Homo sapiens: one gene and its partners. The gene in region 4 interacts genetically with the main gene of each other region. Each region holds a gene or a part of one and is shown on either strand. Other genes may lie near its edges. The genes, in order: UBA2, EXOSC9, CTNNBL1, ZCCHC9, MPHOSPH6 and EXOSC2.

Region 1 (3,500 bases), on a different chromosome or scaffold from region 4:
CCGCCCACCTCGGCCTCCCAAAGTGCTGGGATTACAGGCATACAGGCATGAGCCACTGCGCCCGGCCTTTTTTTTTTAAACTGATGGGGTCTTGCTATGTTGTCCGGGTTGGTCCTGAACTCCTGGGCTCAAGCAGTCCTCCCACCTTGGCCCCCCAAAGTGCTGGGATTACAGGTGTGAGCCACTGCACTTGGCCCGATGCGCTCTTTTTTTCCTTTTCTTTTTCTTTTTTTTTTTTTTTTTTGAGGTGGAATCTTGCTCTCACCCAGGCTGGAGTACAGTGGAGTACAGTGATGTGATCTCGGCTCACTGCAACCTCCACCTGCTGGGTTCTAGCGATTCTCCTGCCTCAGCCTCTCAAGTAGCTGGGATTACTGGCACATGCCACCACACCTGGCTAATTTTTGTATTATTAGTAGAGACGGTGTTTCACCTGTTGCCCAGATTGGTCTCAAACTCCTGGCCTGAAGTGATCCGCCCTTCTCAGCCTCCCAGAGTACTGGGATTTCAGGCGTGAGCTATTGCGCCCAGCCTCGATGCACTCTTAAAATATTTTATTTTCATGAAATTTCAGTTTGAAGGAACAGAATCAAATTGCCCAGTCTGCCATCTTGATTTAGTTTTCTATTTAAACTTTTATTGTATATGTTATATTTTTAATTTCTAAGAACTTTATTTTTTGGTATCTTTTTTTTGAGATGGAGTCTTGCTCTGTCACCCAGGCTAGAGTGCAGTGGCGCGATCTCAGCTCACTGCAACCTCCACCTCCCAAGTAGAAGTGATTCTCCTGCCTCAGCCTCCCCAGTAGCTGGGATTACAGGCGGGTGCCACCACGCCTGGCTAATTTTTGTAGTTTTAGGAGAGACAGGGTTTTACCATGTTAGCCAGGCTGGTCATGAACTCCTGACCTCAGGTGATCTGCCCACCTTGGCCTCCCAAAGTGCTAGAATTACAGGAGTGAGCCACCGTTCCTGGCCGATACCCAGTTTTTAAATTATTTAAAAAAAATTTTTTATAGCAGCCTGAAGCTGTAGTATCCCTTTGAGCTCACCAACAGTACTAATTACTGAACTTATTAAAATGTCTGTTATTTCCCATCACATCCTTCCGGTTTCTTTGCCTGCTTAGCTCCATGCCACTCTTGGACTATTAATAGTAATATATCTGGCCGGGCACGATGGCTCACACGTGTAATCCCAGCTCTTTGGGAGGCCGAGGCAGGCAGATCACCTGAGATTGGAAGTTCGAGACTAGCCTGACTAACGTGGAGAAACCTGGTCTCTACTAAAAAAAAAAAAAATATATATATATATATATATATATATATATATATAAAATTAGCTGGGCATGGTGGTGCATGTTTGTAATCCCAGCTACTCAGGAGGCTGAGGCAGGAGAATCACTTGAACCTGGGAGGCGGAAGTTGCATTAAGCCGAGATCGCGCCATTGCACTCCAGCCTGGCAACAAGAGCGAAACTCTGCCTCAAGAAAAAATATAGTAATATATCTGGATTTCATTTTTTTACATTTGCAAATGAATTCCAGCCTGGATTAATGTTAGCCCAGGTATTAATAGTGGTAGCAATTGCTTTTATTATTGTCAGTTTCCCTTAGCACACTTACCTTCCCGGTGAAGCCCAAAATCAAACAAATCTTTCTCCCTCTGTAGCCTGCTTGGCCTGGGCAGTTTGCTTCTAGCCCTTCCACCTACCAGTATTCATTGTACGGAGAAGCTATTTTACAGAGGACGGCTTTAGTGTCTCTTGAGGGATTTAGTTCTGTATTCTCAGGGGAATCCGTAGAGTACTCCTTTAGAATTCATTCCTCTTAGCAGACTCAACACTACATTGTAGTCACAAGATAAAGGTTTGTGTCTCAGCTTCTTGTCTTCTGACATTTGTTGTTTCTGTTGGATCTTGCTAGTGTTTTCTAAACTTTAGTAGAAGCAGGAGCTTGGAGCTTTTCTTAATTTCAGTGTAATTTGTATATTTGCCTTGGTTCTTAATTATTTTTTTGTTTAGTATTAGAGAAATGGTAAATAGGTACATATACTGCCAGAAATACATTTTTTTCCCTCATTATATAAATGTTATTCTAATCAGAAAATTTGGGAAGGCAGTGATGTTGATTCTAGACAACTGTGAAAGGCACTATCGTTAACTGGAGAAATTAATGTGTTGGTCTTGTCAGGAGATTGCTTGCTTGATAAGAATAGCCTCAGGGAGGGACACCAGCTGCTGATACAATGATGGCACCACAGATTAACATGCCTGTGCCCTTACTCTTGCCAAATCAGGTTGCAGAAGAACGCGGAGTCTTATATAATACAAGGAGATGTCTTTTCAGCAAGCCTAGCTAGCCTAGCCTTTAGCTGATTAGAAAAGAAGGTTGAGGCCGGGCGCGGTGGCTCACGCCTGTAATCCCAGCACTTTGGGAGGCCGAGGCGGGCGGATCACGAGGTCAGGAGATCGAGACCATCCTGGCTAACACGGTGAAACCCCGTCTCTACTAAAAAAAAAATACAAAAAATTAGCCGGGCGAGGTGGCGGGCGCCTGTAGTCCCAGCTACTCGGGAGGCTGAGGCAGGAGAATGGCGTGAACCCCAGGGGGCGGAGCCTGCAGTGAGCCGAGATTGCGCCACTGCACTCCAGCCTGGGCGACAGCAAGACTCCGTCTCAAAAAAAAAAAAAAAAAAAAAAAAAAAAAAAAAAGAAGGTTGAAAAACCAGGTTCCTAAAAAGGTCATGATTTTCCTGATCCATTTTGCCATCTGGACGGGAATTTTTAAGTCATTTTTTATTGGATATCTGGTAAACGAGATTTTAGATTGTATGGCGTATAAAATTACAGCACGTTTCCGATTTCTGCCTGTTATTTCTCCTCCAAAGATTTTTTTGAATAAACAACCAAACCCAAGAAAGAAGCTTCTTGTGCCTTGTGCACTGGATCCTCCCAACCCCAATTGTTATGTATGTGCCAGCAAGCCAGAGGTGACTGTGCGGCTGAATGTCCATAAAGTGACTGTTCTCACCTTACAAGACAAGGTCAGTGCAAGGCCTGGGTCTCTTTTCCTTTTGCTTTTACAGTATTACTGTGATGACAAACAAACACTAGCTGCTGATTCTGAAAAGGTCCAACTGCAGAGATGTGTGGCTGTGATTTCCTGGGTTATTTTGCCTTCTGGATTCCTGCAGGCTTTTCTGTCTGTGGTTCCAGAATAAGTGCCTCACATTCCCAGAATGGAGTAGGAGTATTTGACTGGAATCTGCAGCACAGTGGTGGCACAGTATCACAGCAAGCAGAGGACTTCTTTGCTCTTTGCTTCCCAGGCAGTGGGTAAATTCTGTATTTTTTGACAAATAACAGGTATCCTTGAATGGTCCTCACTGTGGCAGTGAGCAGATAAGTATTTGCATGCAGTGCAAAGTTTGCATTTCCAGTAGAGCAAAGCCCCAGTTACCAGCTTTGTATTAAAGGGTATAAGTAACTTGCAGAGTTTT
Region 2 (3,500 bases), on a different chromosome or scaffold from region 4:
TTCATCAAAGTATAAGAGTTTTGTTACTTCTACTGAGAAAGTTCTTTGCCAACTAATGCCCTTACAAAGAAAGAAAGGAAATACAAGGTGCTTTACTATTAAGGGAAGTGTTTGTTTAATATTAACATGACATACTTGAGTAGAGCAATAAAATTCCTAGCTGCATTTGTAATTTTGGCCCATAATAAGGCGAGGCTTACCCTTGCTGGAAAAAGGCAAAACTGACACAAATGGGCATGTGGTGGATACTTAATGGTACAGGATCACGCTCTTCAGGTGTATACTGTTTCAAAAGAAAATGTTTAATAATTATAGTCACTAAGTTATGAACATCCAAAAAAATCATCTTGCACATCAAATACTAAAAAATGAAGTTCCTTTATTCTTTTGAGTACCTAAATAACTTCTTTTAATTAATTACCAGTTTGATTTTGCCACTCACGTTCCTCAAACTGTACAACTTTTTCAAAAAGCTTTTTCAAAAATTTACTGACACATAATTTACATCCCATAAAATCCACTTTTTTTTTTGGAGATGAAGTTTCACTCTTGTTGCCCAGGCTGGAGTGCAATGGCAAGATGTCAGCTCCCGGCAACCTCCGCCTCCTGGGCTCATGCGATTCTCCTATGTCAGCCTCCCAAGTAGGTGGGATTACAGGCATGTGCCACCACGCCCGGCTAATTTTGTATTTTTAGTAGACGGGGTTTCTCCATGTTGGTCAGGCTGGTCTCGAACTCCCAACCTGAGGTGATCCACCTGCCTTGGCCTCCCAAAGTGCTGGAATTACAGGTGTGAGCCACCACGCCCAGCCAAAATCCACTCATTTTAAGTATATGATTCAATTTTTAGTAAATGTATAGTTATGGATACATTTACGGACCCATCACCACAATCTAGTTTTTTAACATTTCCATTACTCCCCAAAATTCCTTTGAATCTGTCTGTAGTCCGTAGGAGTCTGGTGTACTCCCACCCTAGCCCCAAGGAATCACTGATCTATCTTATTTCTGTCTCTATAAATCTGACTTTCTGAGCATTCTATATAAATGGAAAAAAAAAAAGTTGTAATGTTTTGTGCCTGGCTTCTTTCAACTTAGCATGTTTCATGCACCTTGCAGCATTTATCAGTAGTTCAGTTCTTTTCATTACTGAACAGCATTCCATTATTTGTATATATGACATTTTATCTATTCACCAGCTGGACATTTGGATTGTTTCCAGTTTCTGGCTAACAAATGATGCTATGAACACTTGCATTGAAGTCTCTGAACGTAGTAAGCTCTTATTCCTCCCGTAGATTCTTAGGCATGGAATTGCTAGAATTTTTTTTTTTTTTTCTAATTTTAAGCCATTGCAGTTTGTTTTAACATTATAAGGTCGGCTGGGGGCAGTGGCTCACGTCTGTAATCCCAGCACTTTGGAAGGCCGATGTGGACGAGGTTGGGAGTTCAAGACCAGCCTGACCAACATGGAGAAACCCTGTCTCTACTAAAAATACAAAATTAGCCAGGCGTGGTTGCACATGCCTGCAATCCCAGCTACTTGGGAGGCTGAGGCAGGAGAATCGCTTGAATCCGGGAGGCGGAGGCTGCAGTGAGCCGAGATCACGCCATTGTACTCTAGCCTAGGCAACAACAGTGAAACTTTGTCTCAAAAGAAAAAAAAAAAATTACAAGGTCAAACCTGCTGAAAGATGTACATATAAGAGAGTGTTTTCAGCTGGGCATGGTGGCTCATGCCTGTAATCCCAACAGTTTGGGAGGCCAAGGTGGGAGGATCACTTGAGCCCAGGAGTTCGAGACCAGCCTGGGCAATTTGGTGAAACCATATCTCTACAAAAAATACAAAAATTAGTCAAGTGGGTGGCACATACCTGTAGTCCCCACTACTCAGGAGACTGAGGTGGGAGGATTGCTTAAGTCCAGGAGGCAGAGGTTACAGTGAGCCGAGATCACGCCACTGCACCCCAGCCTGGACAACGGAGTGAGATCCTGTCTCAAAAAAAAAAAAAAGAAAAAAAAAAAAGAATATTTTCTTCTACTGTTATTTTTCTGAATATAGAATGCTGTCTACACTTAAAACTTAAGCTACCAAACTTTTCCAACATGGCTGTACCATTTTACATTCCCACTAGCAATAACACCACAGTATTCTTTAATTGATTTTTCAAGTGTAGTAATCGCTTTCTACTTTTTTTCACTTCCTTATATAAACTCCCTCCTCTAAAAGAATATTACCTCTACTGTTAATAAACCTTTGTCCCTATTTCTCACTTTTTAATGGTTCTGCTTCAGTCTACTGCCCAAAATCAAAATTATGAATCATTGCTTAGAAAATCTGGGCATCTGATGTGTCCTTTTGCAACTTCAGGATTCAAACTACAACTACAGTGCACTTTCACTATTCTAGCATGTAATTTATATAAATCAAAACTGACATACTCAGAACAAAAGATAAAGACAACGTAGGTCAATGGTTTTCAAAATGTGCTCCCTGGACCAGCAACATCAGTATTACCTAAGAACTCAAAGTTAGAAGTACAAAATCTTAAGTCCTAGCCCTGTTTTACTTTGGGAGTAGTCTGGCTATACGTTTTAACAAGCCCTCCAGGTATTTCTGATGGACTTTCGTCATCTCTTTGCCTAATGAACAAAAGTCCTGGAGACAAATATGAACCTGCTGATTCCTCAGTGCTTTTCAGCTATTGCATGCCTCTTGCAGGGTAAGCATCTCACTGTGCTGAGATTCATGTATTTTTCACACATATGGCCCCTAAACATAAGTCAACCACTTCATCTAATGTTCAATCCAAAATAGTCATCTAATTCTATTCTGGAAAACCAGGCTAGGGTATGTTCTTACTGACAAATGTTTCAACAGAGGAACGGTTAAGAGATTTCCAGGGCAATTTTGACCATATGCAGTTTCAGTCTTACAAACAAATTTTTAGAAACGACCCAATTGCCATCTACAACATAACTTCACTAAAAACAAGTTGCCTGCACATTTAAGACCCTCCTCATTCATTCATATCAAGGATCCTGGTTCACATAGGAGCTTACCAGTGTTACTTCATCTCCTTGGACAGAGACATCAGGTCTTCGGAAATGACATAAGGCCACGATTGCAGCAATGCTGGCAGCATCAATAATATTTCCATCATGATTTAATAAATGTAGGTCTACACGTATTTGCCAAACCTGATAGTGAATTTAAAATAAAAATAAATCCTAACTGATTACAACCAGTGGCTATTTATCAGGAAAAGTAACATTGTGTACAAATTATTTTTTCTTGCTGTTAAAACACGCAGTTACTCCTTGTACTTTGTCAACAAAAAATATATTTTAGAAAATTTAAGCCAAACATCTGAAATACTATGTGGGTCGTTTAACAACAGAACACATACTTTAAATAAACAGAACCACTCTAACATTTAATACTACGATTTTCCTAACCTCAAATCTAATTACATTTTTATCATGTCTGTTAAAAACCA
Region 3 (3,500 bases), on a different chromosome or scaffold from region 4:
AGCCATGGGACAATGTTACTTTGCTGAATATATTTCTCAAAGCTTCATCAAGTCCAGCTAATTCTATCTCCTAAGTCTTTCCTGAACTCATCCACTACACACTTAGAATAAAATCCCAAATCCCTCACATGATCTACGTAAGGATCTGGCAGGATCTGCCCAGATAATCTCTCCAACCCCAAACCAGTGCAAAGACTCCCATTGCTAGCCCATGTCTACTTGTTCTCTGGCATAAGTAGACTCTCCAGTGTCTGGCACACAGCAGGTACTCAGTGAAGATCTGAGGAATGGAGGAAGGGAGGAGGGGAGGGGAGGGGAAGGAAGGGGATGAATGAAATTGTTACCTGTTATCTCTCAAGGTCATAGAGATGACCTAAAGAAAGGATGTACATAAAACTACTTTGTAAACTACATGAATGCAAGCTGTTATGGTTATTATCAGCAACAGGCACAATGTACCCAACATACCACTAGAATTTAACTAAAATAATCAAAACATTTCTAGGAAAGGGTTAAATCACTTTCAAGTAAGCTCAATATCTGCTACTTTTTCTTTTCTTAGCTAACATCTTGCCCCACTCTGGAGAAAAACCACATTAGTGTTAACACAGCTCTCATGGGATTTCCGAAGTCCTAGCCTCTCCGGGGTTTGGCCTTCCCTCCTTTAATTTCTCTCCAACACTGGGGGAAAACTGAATTATCAGTCTTAGTCATCAGCCACAGCAGTATCTCCAATAGCTCAACGTCAGAAACCAGAGGGAGATTTCAGAAAGATGAATGCTGATGATGTAGCACAAAAAGGACAATAATATTTTACAAGTTCACGTGACTTTACAGGGGCAAACATCACTTGTTTTTCATCAAATGGGACTTCAGTGGCAGTGAGAAAATAACTCCTGGACTTGTAGCCTTCCATGTGTCATTTTTACAAAGCGATCTCTTTTTCCCTGTCCCTTAACAGACGGGTTGGTCCCACATTACATTTCTGTCTCCCAGGCTAGAAACCACTTACCCATGACAGCTACTATCCTAATCCTCCAGTACCAGCCTTGCCCTACATGGGAATTATACCTGCCAATTAACTGCTGCTGCAGGGCTAACAGATTGAGCAGAAGCTGGTGAGGAGGGAAGGGAGGGAGGATGTGCTACACACACTGTTTGTCTAAGCCCTGGCAAGGCTGCTGCCCTCAGAGAGGAAATTAAAAAATTCAGGACTGTCTCCCACCACGTATTTCTAAAGTGCCATCATCTTTTAGCGGGAGACCCCCAAATTAGCACTAGTACAAATCCTAATAAAGACAGAGCTATTGTCACAACACAGTAAAGACCTTTTTGGAATATGAATCCATTTTTTCTTCTTCTCAGATTCACAGCCAACCTCATTTTGTAATCCAAACTTAGCATCGTGTCTTTGAGAGAACCAAAAAACAGCTGGCTCTTAAGACTCTTATTTCCATAATTCATATTGAACAAAATGCCAGAGTGAAATAACACACAAGTTAACACTTAAAGATTTAAAAAGACACAGAGGTAAGGTCATTTTGTTTTTAATCACTGATATTTTACCTCTACTCTTCCCAGCTTCATTCATTTATTCATTCAATAAATATTTATTAAGGGCCTACCAAGAGCTAGGTATTGCTCTGGGTGCCAAAGATAGAGCTGTGAACAGAACAGAGCCAGTCTCTGTTTTCATGGGAGGCTGAGAGGAGGACAGCAATGAGCAAAATAAACAACTAGAATTTCAAATCATGATACGTGCTATGCAGACAATATACAAAATACAGTAATGAGGAAATGAGAGAATGGCTTGCAGGGCTACATAGGAAAGACTTCTTGGAGGAGGAAACATCTGAACTGAGACCTGAATGTGAAGAAACCAGTCATACAAAGCATTAAGGGAGACGAGCATTCCAACAGAGGACACAGAAGTCCAAAGGTCCAGAGGCAGGAATGAGTGGAAAGGCCCCAACGCATCTTGAGGAACAGCAAAGGGAAAGGCCCGAGGAATCTCCTTCCCTAAGCTGTACTTTTGCAGTCACACCTAAATACCTAATACTGTGGAACCCATTAAACTTCTCCACTTTTGTTGCTTTGCTAATACCATTTTCTCTGCCCAAAAAGCCCTTCCTTCCACTTGGTGAAATTTGACCCCTCTTTCAAAGATAATAATGCAAGTGCCTTCTATGTGTCCTCAGTAAGATCCAGGAAGCCTGCCCTGACCCTCCCCTACAGTACATAATATGGAACAATTTTAAAACTCTGTCACATTCTTTACATCTCATAAGATGCTTTCCCAACTGCACTAGCCCACTTAACCTTCACATTAACGCGATGAAATATGAATTCTTAACCCCATTTTACAGATGAAGATGGGAAGCTCAGACAAGCTTAGTATTTGGCCCAAAATTACGTTTTACAGGGCCAGCCATCTCAGCTCCCACCCAGCGCTGCCACGTTACCTCTTCCTCTTCCTCTTCCCCATCTCTGTCAATAATCTGCAGCAGCCTTTTTTTGTCATCATCCGCTTCCTCCACCACAGTCATTTCTTCTTCCCGATAGCGGCCGCGTTCTCGAGTACCAGTTTGTTTCCGACGCATCTTCTGCTCCTCCTCTTCATCATCCCGGGGACGTTTTGTGCCCCTATTGGGCTGAGAGAAAAGAAACATAAGATTTTAGAGCTGGATACAACATAGAAGCCAGGCGTGGTGGCTCATGCCTATAATCCCAGCACTTTGGGAGGCCAAGGCAGGCAGATCTCTTGAGCCCAGGAGTTTGAGACCAGCCTGAGGCAACATGGTAAAACCCTGACTCTACAAAAAATACAAAAAAAGACTTTGCAAGGCATAGACAGCAAATATCCTAAAAGCTTTCAAGAATTCTCTGACTCAAAAGCATCCAGCATACAACTTCTCCCACCACATGGGGTAAAGCTCTATGTGGTCATTTTTCAGATCCTTAATGATTCTATAAATATACCATGAAAGTCAGTGGGAATTTTTTTATACGCAGTTTTGCCATTTCACAAAAGTTCCTATGTATACGGAAATAGCAACAAAGCTATCTTAAGATGGGGACACTGGGTTAGGCTCACATACTAGTCAAGATATAACTCCCAATGCCAGCGTCTTAGCACCTGGTTTTAATTCACATCTACGTAAGATTACAAAGCCTTTTTTACAGTTACTCACAAATAGTACAAACATAAAATATTACATATGTAACTTCTGAATGTCTACTGTACTCCCAATTCTATTTTACAGAAGAGTTGAGTAAGGCCCAGAGCCTGGGCAAAGGACCTAAATAGACACTTCTCAAAAGAAGATGTACAAATGGCCAGAAGATATATGAAAAAAATGCTTACCATCACTAATCATCAGGGAAATGCAAAGAAAAATCACAATGAGTTATCATGTCACACCTATCAGAATGGCTATCATGAAAAAGACAGAAGATAAAGTGTTGTTGAGGGTGTAGAGAAAAGAGAACCCTGTGCACTG
Region 4 (3,500 bases):
TCTGTAAGTAACAGAATTGGCTCTATTATATTAAATTCATTAGTTAGCAAATATAAATGCTTATGAATCAGGTGTCTTATAAAGTCAGGGTCCCCTAAGGCTTACTGGTCACTTTTTTCCCCCAACTATTCAGTTACTCAATACTATGTGTGTCTATTGCTGACAGAGATTAAGTCATTGCTACAGTAGGAAAACAGGTTGTCTTAAAATCATTAGTATCCCAATTGAGTTATTAATAACAAGTGCAGAATAAAACGCAGAGGAATACTAATCTCACCCCTTCTAAGTAGAGGCCCAGAGATCTCACCTGAATTCTGACTTTCAGGGCAATCTTTCTTTAAATGTTCCACAGAGCCACAAAGTTTGCAACCGCCACCTATTGAAAGAGCAAAGCCACTGAATACCATCTCATACTTGCAAGGGGTTTTTAACATCTCAAAGCACTTTCACATCTTACTGGATCCTCACAACCCTGTCAGTTGTAAAGGTAGCTAGACCAGGATCATAGGGAGGTGCCACTATTCCTATTAATTCATTCTCCATTCCTTTTAACCTCACAGAGCACTAAATTGTACCCACCCACTGCTTCTTGCACCTGGCCTTGAGAAGTAGGAAAAAGAAATGAGATATGATGGAAGGCACTTGTTCAAGAGCTATTGCACAGAAGCCTGGATCTTAACAATGCTTAGACAATCAAGAGTCTGTGAACCCTTGGACCTGTAAACAAAAGATGTAAGCAGATGCACTTTCCTGAATAGCATGTCAGATTCTCAAACAGTCAATGGCCCAAAAACAGATTAGAAACTACTGTTCTACTGTACAGATCAGATGGGGGTAAGCATTTATGAAAGAAATAAAGTTAATTTTTGTTTCAGTGCCTTCCACTGGCCAGGCACCCTAACCCTATAAAAATGCCCACCTGCCTACTTTAAACAACATTCCAGGATTGTGAATTACAACACATGTGGTTTCTAAAATAAGTGTTTCACTTAATGATCAAACACTATTGCTTAATGGTCAAGCATTATCTTGATCATGCTCGAAATGTTAAGTGACTTAGAAAAATGACCTAATCAGATACAAATCTGGCTGAATTTTCTTTTTTTTTTCCCCCAAATCTTGACTTTATTTTTAACATAAAAATGCAAATGTGGAAACCCACCCTACTTTTCCCCCAACATAATGCTTTACCTCTTAAAAATAAAGTACTAATTCTATATACATCAAATGTACCATACAAAAATGTATCCAGTGTTTCTATTGCTACTAAAGTGTTCTAAATTAAAACAAATCGCAGAAAGCCCCTTATTGTAAACAAAAGATTACAAGGTATAAAATCAAGGCACACACAGGCAAATATGGCCAAATTTTCACATCTATGGGATCTACTCTCCTTGCTGCATTAATTTTTTTTTTTTTTTTTTTTTTTACAGCTAGTCACTTTGGTTGACCAGTGAAAGCCATTTTTGCTCACTAGTCATGTTATCTACCCAGTTTTATAAGCTCAAAACTGAAATGCACCTGAGCATTTTCCAGGCCCTGGCCTCTTTATATGCCATAGTGAAAGAGAAGCACTTGAATAATACATTTTAATCCTTATAAAAATTCTTTAGGCAAATACCATAATTCATCAACTCTAAGACACCACTGATTATAAGATGTATCATTATTGCACATACCTCTCAGAAAGAAAAACAGCTGTCAATTATATGGGACCCACCAACGGTAAGATACATTCTGATTTCCAAGAGATTAAAATTGAAAAACTGTGCATCTTAGAATCAATAAAATATAGTTTTATCATCTCCACTCTATAGGTGAGGAAACGGAGATCAGAGTTTGGTAGTTGGCCAAAGCCCCCCAGCTAGTGAGTGGCAGTGCTGGCGCTGTAACCCAAGTCTGACCAACTCCAAAAGCTATGCTTTTTCACTGGACTTCTCCAGGAGGGAAACCCAGGACATGACACAAGAAACGTCTAGAGCCTGATGGCACCAGCCATCACATTAACAGATAACAACCTCCGCCTTAAAGCTTTAGACCGCATAGACTTTACTGTGTGAACCTTAATTACCCGAGTTAAAGAGAAAAAAGCTACATGATCCCATACCAGACAAATAACTAAGAAAAAAAATTCAGAAGCAAACATTACTACAATATTGAATCATCTGTACCCACCCCTCCACCAAAATGATATGCTGGCTGAGGCTGAATATATAATACGATTTTAAAAACCTCATATTAGCTTGAGATATAATCTCTCTGCTTCTGTTATGTCTAAAAGTAGAAATGTATGACATAGTCTCACAAATGATGAAGCAAGCACAGTTGGAAATATACACCTTAGTTTTTTCTGATTTGTTTTATTAACATCTGAAGTCAAATTGCACAAAAAGCCTAGTACATATGATAGCACTTGATAAAAATAATGTAATTCTCAAGGTTTTGCAATTTATTCAAGAATTTATTCAAGAACTGTGATTGAGTGTAAATTAAATCACAACTGCACGATGACTCACCATTTCTGCTATATGAGGGTAACAGTACTTACCATCAGCATAGAGTCCTTTGGGATTATCAGGACAAGATCTAGACAGGTGCCCCATTTCTCCACAAACAAAACATTTTGCAAAAGGAAATTCGCCTGTAAAAATCAACAGTTCCTATTCAGTTGACAATACATATGGCAAGTCATAAAATTAACATTATTTTAAAATACTCTGAATAAAAAATATATTTACATAACTTAAAATTTAATCTCATATGATTTCCAAATACTAAGTGGCACACTCGTAACAAATTGTGTTAAAAAAATACCCAAGGTGCTATTTATTGGCTTTCCCCATGAACAAAACAAAAAACTGAAAGAAACACATACCAAGAGCCGGGTCTACTTTAGCCTTACACTTGGTTATTTCGTGCTCTGTGGACCCACACCTGTAACATATCCCAGTGCCCATGTCTTGATTTTCAAGGGCGGCGGGGCAATCTGCAATTCCATGACCAGGTTTTCTACAATGGAAACACACCTAGGAAAACAAAACGTAGGTTGGCACGCTGCAAAACTATACCAGTGACTTTATTAATTCTTGTTATCAAAAACATATTTAAAACATTTCTCATCTTATTAAGCTATTTTTCTGAAATCTCAATATTTGTAGAAAAAAGCTTTCATACGTTCCTAAACAACGAGATATCCTTTCCATCAGAGGGTTTCATTGCTTTTGAAAACCTCAATCAATAAATCCATAAATCTCAGGAACAATGTTATATATGTGGCTTTGTAGACGGCAATTGCTTAAATGAATTGAGCAAATATGGACTATTCATTTTATTAACTGGAATGTCTGCAGTAGAAAAATGGCATTTTCTATAGGAAATGGACAGTGGCTATAAAAACTGTCACTCAAAATTTGTATTTGTATATAATTATGTACTCAAAATTTTAAAAAATTAATATTTCTTTTAAAGTTCACATAATTGAATGAATTTGGGTCAGACAT
Region 5 (3,500 bases), on a different chromosome or scaffold from region 4:
ACAGAGTTCATTAGGTTGAGCATTTTAAGGCAGGTCAGAAGTTTTTGTTTCTTCTTTTAAATTGTTACTACTTGTAATACCATCCATTTTAGCTAACATTTACTGAATCTATAGTGTGTACCAGGAACTGGGCTAAACACTTTACATCTGTAGTTATTGAATCTTCGTAGCAAACTTAGGAACTGCCTCCTATGATTCTGTCACTTTGTAGTTGAGGAACTGAGCTTAAGGGAGGGTAACTTGCCCAGCTTCACCCAGCTAGTCAGTGCTGAAGGCTGGGGTAGACAGTTTCTGGCCCACCCCTAAGCTTGGCTGGTGCCTGATCAACAATTTTGAATGAAGGAGTGTTGGATTTATTTCATCCATTAATTTAGCTGAATCCTTCTGGAAGCTATTTTTCATTTTTCCCTGATACTTTCCTCACCTTAGTAAGCTCTGTTGTATGGTAGTTTTACTTAAACTTTGGTCAAATGACTGAAGATGCTGCTTACTGTCTTGAGGCACATTTATGTGTTTCCATTCTGTACCTGATGTTTGGGCTTTGATTTGGAATGTTATATTCCCCTGTTCATTTGGCTGACCTCTGGACATTGTTTGAAGGTTAGATACCCTTCTCTAAAGATAGAAAGTATGTCCCACCAGGAGGGATCGGGAGAAGGTACTTTTTTTCTCTGCTTCTCAGAGGAAGCAAGATGTTGGTGAGGAGGGAGAAGATAGTGCCAGGGGCAGGGTCACAGGGAGGAAGGGACCTTTGCTGCTGGAGCTATAATTTACTTTTATGCCTTAAGTAAACTTGCCAAAGTGTTCCTTCCAGTTGTTTATTAAAGAGCAGGACTGTTTCTATCTTGTTTCCAGTATTTTTCCCCTAATACAGCATATTATTCCCAGAAAATGACCTTTACATTTCTTTCTGGGAAGGTAAATAATGCCTTTTTGCCATTACTCAGCATCCTGTTTATGTATAGGTGTGTATATCAGCTCAGGATGTTGGCAGGAGAAGATGACACTCTCAGACTGAGGAGAGACTATCAAGGTGTGGGTGGGGCATAGGGGGGCCCCTCGGGGCAGTGCAGCACCTCCTAGCATGTGTAGTGGGAGTGATTACCACCTGAGCTTGCAGAGTCAACGGGTGGGTGGGGAATAGCTGCTACCGAATCTGCAGATAAGTTGTGTAGAGAGAGCACCTTACAGGAGCTGCTACCTCCATTCACGGGTACGGCCAGCCCAAGGTCATCCTAGCAAGGGAGCCAGGTACCTGGCAGCAAAGGAGCCCTTCCGTGCATTACGTTCAAGTCAGCCTCCCAGGCCAGAGAAACAGGTGAAGACGGGAAGTAGGTCTGGAGGGGTGAATGGATGACATGTCCTTGGTATACGTGTTGTATTGAGTTGTTGTTTTTAACACTCTAAATAGGGAGATCATGGAATGGATTGGTTGATTAAGCACATGGGCTCTGAAGTCAGGCAGACCTGGGTTTGATGCCCAGCTCCGCCAGTTGTTTACTTGTCACCTTGGGTGAGTTACTTAACCTGTTTTGTGTCATTTGTGTATTGGGTATGATGATAGTACCTGTCCAGTACATTCCGAGAAGTAGATGAGGTAATATATGTAAAACAGTCACCATAACACCAGGCATAAAGCACAGTGATTGTCACCATTGTGTGTATTTCCTTATATCTGAATATATGAAGTACACCCATTCCTTTCTACTCACTTATGTTTGTGTATCCTTTTTTGCTAGTGTTGTCTTAACTATTCTGTGAATTTGGAGATTGCATGTGTCTGTGCTCTGAAAGTCTCGACTTTCCCATTTTTAATGTCAGCCGTATCAGTCTGTAATTCAGTGAAGATAATTAGGGCTATTCAGTGTTAACACTGCCTCACAGGGGACACTTTTAGCCAGTGGCTAGACCATGTAGGGGAATGATGATCTAGCTGCTGTGCCTCAACTTGGAACAACTGAAGGGCATTCCTGACTCCAGAGCTCTCATATGTGGCTGAGGCCTTAGTGTAGCCACATTGCCCATTATCTTCTCCCTCTGCCCAATCCTTCTTTCTCTGTTTTCCTAGAAGGGCATCTGCTGAACAACACTGCCTGCTAAGTTTTCTGCATATATGTCTGTCTCAGAGTCTGTTTCCAGGGAACCCGATATAGTGTGAATTCCTAGGAGTGAAATTTACCAGATGAAAGATTTTGCTATCTATTGCCTTATTGTTTTTTTCCCCAAGGATATGGTCCAGAAAGAGTGTGCAAGTATAGGCAGTTTAATTCCTCCTTTGCCGTAGCAAGTTGTTTAAGAAGTATTTTTGGCTATTGTACATCTTATACTTGTGTTTTGTGGTCTGTTTGGAGTCAGAAGCTATAGGGACCTGAAACTAACAAGTTAGCCTGCCACACTTTCACTGATGCTGGTGGAAGATAGGAACCTTCTGGGTCTGAGATGTAGGGGAGGGACAATAGCCTTTCCTTCCACCCATTTGAAGTTCATTAGTTGGGGTCCCTGTAACAAAAGACAGATTAACAAAGAGAAAGGTATACACTTTTATTTCACAAAAGTTTTAGGTGACACAGGAGCCTTCATAAGAAAATGAATACCGAAGAACTGGTTGAACCTGAGTGTTTTTATGTTAGCTTTGATGAAGAGTGGAAAGTTGTGAAGAAATATGATGGGAGCAAGGGGTATGAACGAAGAGTAATAAGCCAGGAGAAACTTAGCAAGTCTTTTGTTCAGATTCCTCTCTCTGTCCCTTCTTCTGAGATAAGGATGTTGCTTTCCTCTGAGTGTAGGGAGGGCACCTCTTATGTGAGATGCTTTTATGACCTGCTTCAGGGGACAGTCAGAAAATCCTACCTGCACGTCATTTTTCAGATTCCTCCAGTGTAAAATTTTCAGTATGCCAAGATGCCATATTTTGGGAGTAGTGTCTCCTGAACACCATCAGAAACAAAGGACTTACTGTACAGCAAGCAGCACAAGCATCAAGTTTGCGTCATTTCTCTTTTGTCCCCAACTCCTATGAGGGATGGCGTGAAGTGGCCCAGGTGGATGCTGTGCACCCAGTGGATTTGCATCATAGCTGAGATCTCCTGAGCTTAGAAAACTGGAACCTTGGATAACGGACCACAAGCAGACTTGCCTTCGGCCCCAAGAGAGGCATCTGTATTATGCTGGACAGTAAGCAAATCTGCCCTTCGCTTTAGAGGAAGACTGTTTTTCAAGGCTGCTCGCTATGCAGATATCCTTGCAAAGATAGTCCAGAGCAACCGGGCAGTTAGTGCCTCACTCAAAAAATGTGCAGGAATGTGAGACCCACTGAGAAGGGTTTTCTAACTGGAGTTTTGCCATGGTATTTGTGGCTTTAGGCAAGTCCAGCTTTTTCTGAGCAGTAGTTTCTCATCTGCGAAATTTATGAAATAATTTTGTGGGTGTGTTTTAGCCTGAAAATTATCCTCATTAATGAAAATTGGATAATTAAAATACAAAAAGAGGTAAGTTTTGAA
Region 6 (3,500 bases), on a different chromosome or scaffold from region 4:
TGGGAGGCCGAGGTGGGCAGATCACCTGAGGTCAGGAGTTTGAGACCAGCCTGGCCAATATGGTGAAACCTGTCTCTACTAAAAATACAAAAATTAGCCAGGCATGACGCACGCCGGTAATCCTAGCTATTTGGGAGGCTAAGGCAGAATTGCTTGAATCCAAGAGGCGGACGTTGCAGTGAGCCGAGATCGCGCCACTGCACTCCAGTCTGGGCAACAGAGCAAGACTCCGTCATTAAAAAAAAAGAAAAATTTAAAAAATAACATAAAATAGAGACAGAGTCTTGTTCTGTCACCCAAGCTGGAATGCAGTGGTGTGATCATAGCTTACTGTAGCCTTGAGCTCCTGGGCTCAAGCAACCCTCTGGCCCCAGCCTCCTGAGTAGCTAGGACTACAGGCATGTGCCACCACGCCCGGCTAATTCTTTTTTAATTTTTTTGTAGAGAGGGGGGTCTTGCTATGTTGCCCAGGCTGGTCTTGAACTCTTAGGCTCAAGCAGTCCTCCCTCCTTGGCCTTCCAAAGCGCTGGGATTACAGGCATGAGTCACCACACTCGGCCTGTCATTAATATCTTGACGTGAACAACACCTTCTCCACTCCCTGCGCTAAAAGTTAACACCATTAACAAAAGCCTAGTCTAAAGCACAGGCCACCGTAAGTTACAAGACCCAAAGAAATGACTTAGCAGCAGGTCCCAACAAGAGCTGGGGAGTCAGCCTGAATTAAGGAGACTGAGAAAGGATGCAGCAGAGCCCGACACTTGGTCTAAGACTCGGATCCCTGCAAGGATGACATGGTTCTTCCGTCAGAGACATACAATGGAAGGCCCATTTCCCAGTCCCACAGAAAAGCATCAAGAGGCTGGAGTGCAAAGCGCAGGATACACTGATAAGGTCCCCTTCCTGTAAGAAACCTCTCATTGCAAGCTCATCTTCTGCAGATCTTCTCCTCTGAAATACACAAAGAAATGACATTACTTAAGCCAGATCCTCAGAAAGGTCTCCATCACTTCTCTTTCACTTCCTTTTGAGATGTTTGAGGCCAACCACAATATTCAAGCACTGAGAACTATAGCAAGAGTAGGTAACCCAAGCCACTTGAGGGGAATCAGTGATAATCACGACTTTCCATCTCAAAAGACTTTTCCACAGCTCCTCTTCCTCTTTCCCTCCCTTCTCTGAGGAACATTCAGACCCCTCCCAATCTCACCTAGCCAACATTTCCATAGTCATCTTCCATGACAGCCCTCTGTGGTCCAGCAGGACCAGACTAACTCCTGCTTGGATATATCTCTGCTCATACATTTCCCTTTATCTCAGATTCCCTGAACTAGTCATTCAAAGTCTCTCCATCCTTCCAGGATCAACTCCAATGCCTGTCTTTCCTACAAGCTTCTCTCACTGAAATTTCCTTTTGTATAACCACAGCTTATTTATTCTTCTACTGCCAGGGACTAGGTCAGTTATCTTATATCCCCTGCTGGGGAACTCAATCGTGCTTGGCACTCGGCACAGAGCTTGGCACAGTAAGCCTCTCTGTAAATACACGCTGGACTGAAGATCAAGGTGAACCATGGCATTTTACAAAAGGCTGTGGCTTAGTTACTGTGGTTGTCTGGAATGCCAGCAACCACATTCCACACATGGTTGAATGAAATGCCTTTCAATTCACAAAAACCTAATGTAAAGACAACTTTTCAAGGAACATCTTCACTATGCAAGGCTGTTATATCCAAAAAGGAAAACTGTTAACAACCAGCATCTAAGGGCTTCTCTCCCCAACTCTCTGTTGGGATCCCACCCCATGGATGTTTCTGATCCTACCATATGCCAACTGCTCCCTCTTTCGGGAGACCTGGACAGGGTGAAAAGTCTACATACACATCTAGGCAGCAAACTTCACAGCAGACAAACAGGAGTCAAAGGGGCAACCTCAGTGTAAATCAAAGTCCTCTGGTGGAACAAAGGGTCCCACGGCTCCCCCCAGCCCACTGGGCCCTAGTCCATGGCCCCAGCTGTAGCCCTTACCAGCTCTCCTCCAGGAAGGTTCATGGACGAGAGCAGCAAGACCGAATCCAGCCTGGAGTTGGTCTCCACCTTCCACCTCTTCTGTTGAACCTATAAGCCAAGTTCCACACCTGGACACATGCTCCATGTTCATGTGTCATATCATAAATAACCAGTAAGGCCAGATGTGGTGGCTCACGCCTGTAATCCCAGCACTTTGGGAGGCCGAAGCTGGTGGATCACTTGAGGTCAGGAGTTTGAGACCAGCCTGACCAATATAATGAAACCCCATCTCTACTAAAAATACAAAAATTAGCTGGGCGTGGTGGCGGGTGCCTGTAATCCCAGCTACTTGGGAGGCTGAGGCAGGAGAATCGCTTGAACCTGGGAGGTGGAGGTTGCAGTGAGCCAAGATCATGCCACTGCACTCCAGCCTGGGCGACAGAGCGAGACTCCATCTCAAAAAAAAAAAAACATGAACCAGTAATCTGAAATCGAACAAGCCACATATTTACATCAGAAGCCACACAACGGCCAAATGCAATGAATGCCTTTTTCATGTAACTACAAGTGGAATGACTGTCCCATGAATGAAATCGCCAGCCTGCCTCGACTTTGTAAACACCAATCTGATATCGACGTTACCTCTGTGATTCGTCCCACTACGATGTCTCCTACTTCACCAATGTATCTGAAAGACAAAACACAAGGGGTTCATCCATCTGTGAGCAGACTTTCTGACAAGACCACACACCATTTGAGATGTCGGTTCAACAGGGTGAAAGCCTGGAACAGGCGCCACATTCAGCAAATTCATGTAACTATATTGTCTGGACTTACTTTCAGAAACTGCTAACTTCAAACATTCCTCCACGTATAAAGTCTCCATTAACTATCCTTAGACATATCACCATTCCAAGTAGTTCATTTAGCCCAAAAACCCTATTTTGTTCGATTACACGACAATGAAAAACACGGACTATTTTCCTGTGGCACATGGATGAGTTCTGCACCAGCCAAAGGAAGAGAAAGGAAATCTGAGCCAGGACTCCAACCACACAAGTCTGCTCACGTCTCCTCCACTTACTCACTGCCTGCTCCTCTCAAGCCCCTTTGCTAGTTCCTTACCCGCGATTCTAATGAGACGTACTCAGTGCTGAGGCTAAGTCCTTAGACCTCTTCACTTTTCGGCCACTCAATCTAATACCTTTAAAACACCACTCTGTGCTGTGACTGTGCCACTCTCCTGAATTCCAAATCCTACTCAACTGCTAGCTACCCAACTCTGCCATCTAGATGACTAACAGGCATTTTCAAATGTATCAAGCACAAAACTAAGCTTTCCCGCAGCCCCCTCCAGTCCTCCATAGCAAACCGAGATAGGGGATGAGTTGTCCCCATCTCAGTCAACGGTGACTCCATCCCCTCAGTTGCTCAGGCCAAAAACCTCGGAGAGTTCCTTGATTCCTCTCTCTCTCTCACGCTCCAGGACA

Evidence for each region.
Region 1: changes in ZCCHC9 (region 4) and UBA2 together harm fitness more than expected from each alone (negative genetic interaction), as found in Homo sapiens cells (one large-scale study listed by BioGRID).
Region 2: changes in ZCCHC9 (region 4) and EXOSC9 together harm fitness more than expected from each alone (negative genetic interaction), as found in Homo sapiens cells (one large-scale study listed by BioGRID).
Region 3: changes in ZCCHC9 (region 4) and CTNNBL1 together harm fitness less than expected from each alone (positive genetic interaction), as found in Homo sapiens cells (one large-scale study listed by BioGRID).
Region 5: changes in ZCCHC9 (region 4) and MPHOSPH6 together harm fitness more than expected from each alone (negative genetic interaction), as found in Homo sapiens cells (one large-scale study listed by BioGRID).
Region 6: changes in ZCCHC9 (region 4) and EXOSC2 together harm fitness more than expected from each alone (negative genetic interaction), as found in Homo sapiens cells (one large-scale study listed by BioGRID).

The regions. Positions count from the first base shown.
Region 1 is NC_000019.10:34,455,881-34,459,380, forward strand, and holds part of UBA2 (SUMO-activating enzyme subunit 2), read left to right. Parts: intron 1-2,888; coding exon 2,889-3,044; intron 3,045-3,500. UniProt on the Homo sapiens protein: The heterodimer acts as an E1 ligase for SUMO1, SUMO2, SUMO3, and probably SUMO4. It mediates ATP-dependent activation of SUMO proteins followed by formation of a thioester bond between a SUMO protein and a conserved active site cysteine residue on UBA2/SAE2.
Region 2 is NC_000004.12:121,804,323-121,807,822, reverse strand, and holds part of EXOSC9 (exosome complex component RRP45), read right to left. Parts: intron 3,202-3,500; coding exon 3,064-3,201; intron 284-3,063; coding exon 201-283; intron 1-200. UniProt on the Homo sapiens protein: Non-catalytic component of the RNA exosome complex which has 3'->5' exoribonuclease activity and participates in a multitude of cellular RNA processing and degradation events.
Region 3 is NC_000020.11:37,732,030-37,735,529, reverse strand, and holds part of CTNNBL1 (beta-catenin-like protein 1), read right to left. Parts: intron 2,652-3,500; coding exon 2,463-2,651; intron 1-2,462. UniProt on the Homo sapiens protein: Component of the PRP19-CDC5L complex that forms an integral part of the spliceosome and is required for activating pre-mRNA splicing.
Region 4 is NC_000005.10:81,308,087-81,311,586, reverse strand, and holds part of ZCCHC9 (zinc finger CCHC domain-containing protein 9), read right to left. Parts: intron 3,027-3,500; coding exon 2,876-3,026; exon of another isoform or gene 2,642-2,875; coding exon 2,549-2,641; exon of another isoform or gene 613-2,548; coding exon of another isoform or gene 561-612; intron 377-560; coding exon 308-376; intron 1-307. Other genes in the region: ACOT12 (acetyl-coenzyme A thioesterase), read left to right, coding at 561-612. UniProt on the Homo sapiens protein: May down-regulate transcription mediated by NF-kappa-B and the serum response element.
Region 5 is NC_000016.10:82,160,225-82,163,724, reverse strand, and holds part of MPHOSPH6 (M-phase phosphoprotein 6), read left to right. Parts: intron 1-3,500. UniProt on the Homo sapiens protein: RNA-binding protein that associates with the RNA exosome complex. Involved in the 3'-processing of the 7S pre-RNA to the mature 5.8S rRNA and play a role in recruiting the RNA exosome complex to pre-rRNA; this function may include C1D.
Region 6 is NC_000009.12:130,696,780-130,700,279, reverse strand, and holds part of EXOSC2 (exosome complex component RRP4), read right to left. Parts: intron 2,699-3,500; coding exon 2,653-2,698; intron 2,119-2,652; coding exon 2,029-2,118; intron 952-2,028; coding exon 886-951; intron 1-885. UniProt on the Homo sapiens protein: Non-catalytic component of the RNA exosome complex which has 3'->5' exoribonuclease activity and participates in a multitude of cellular RNA processing and degradation events.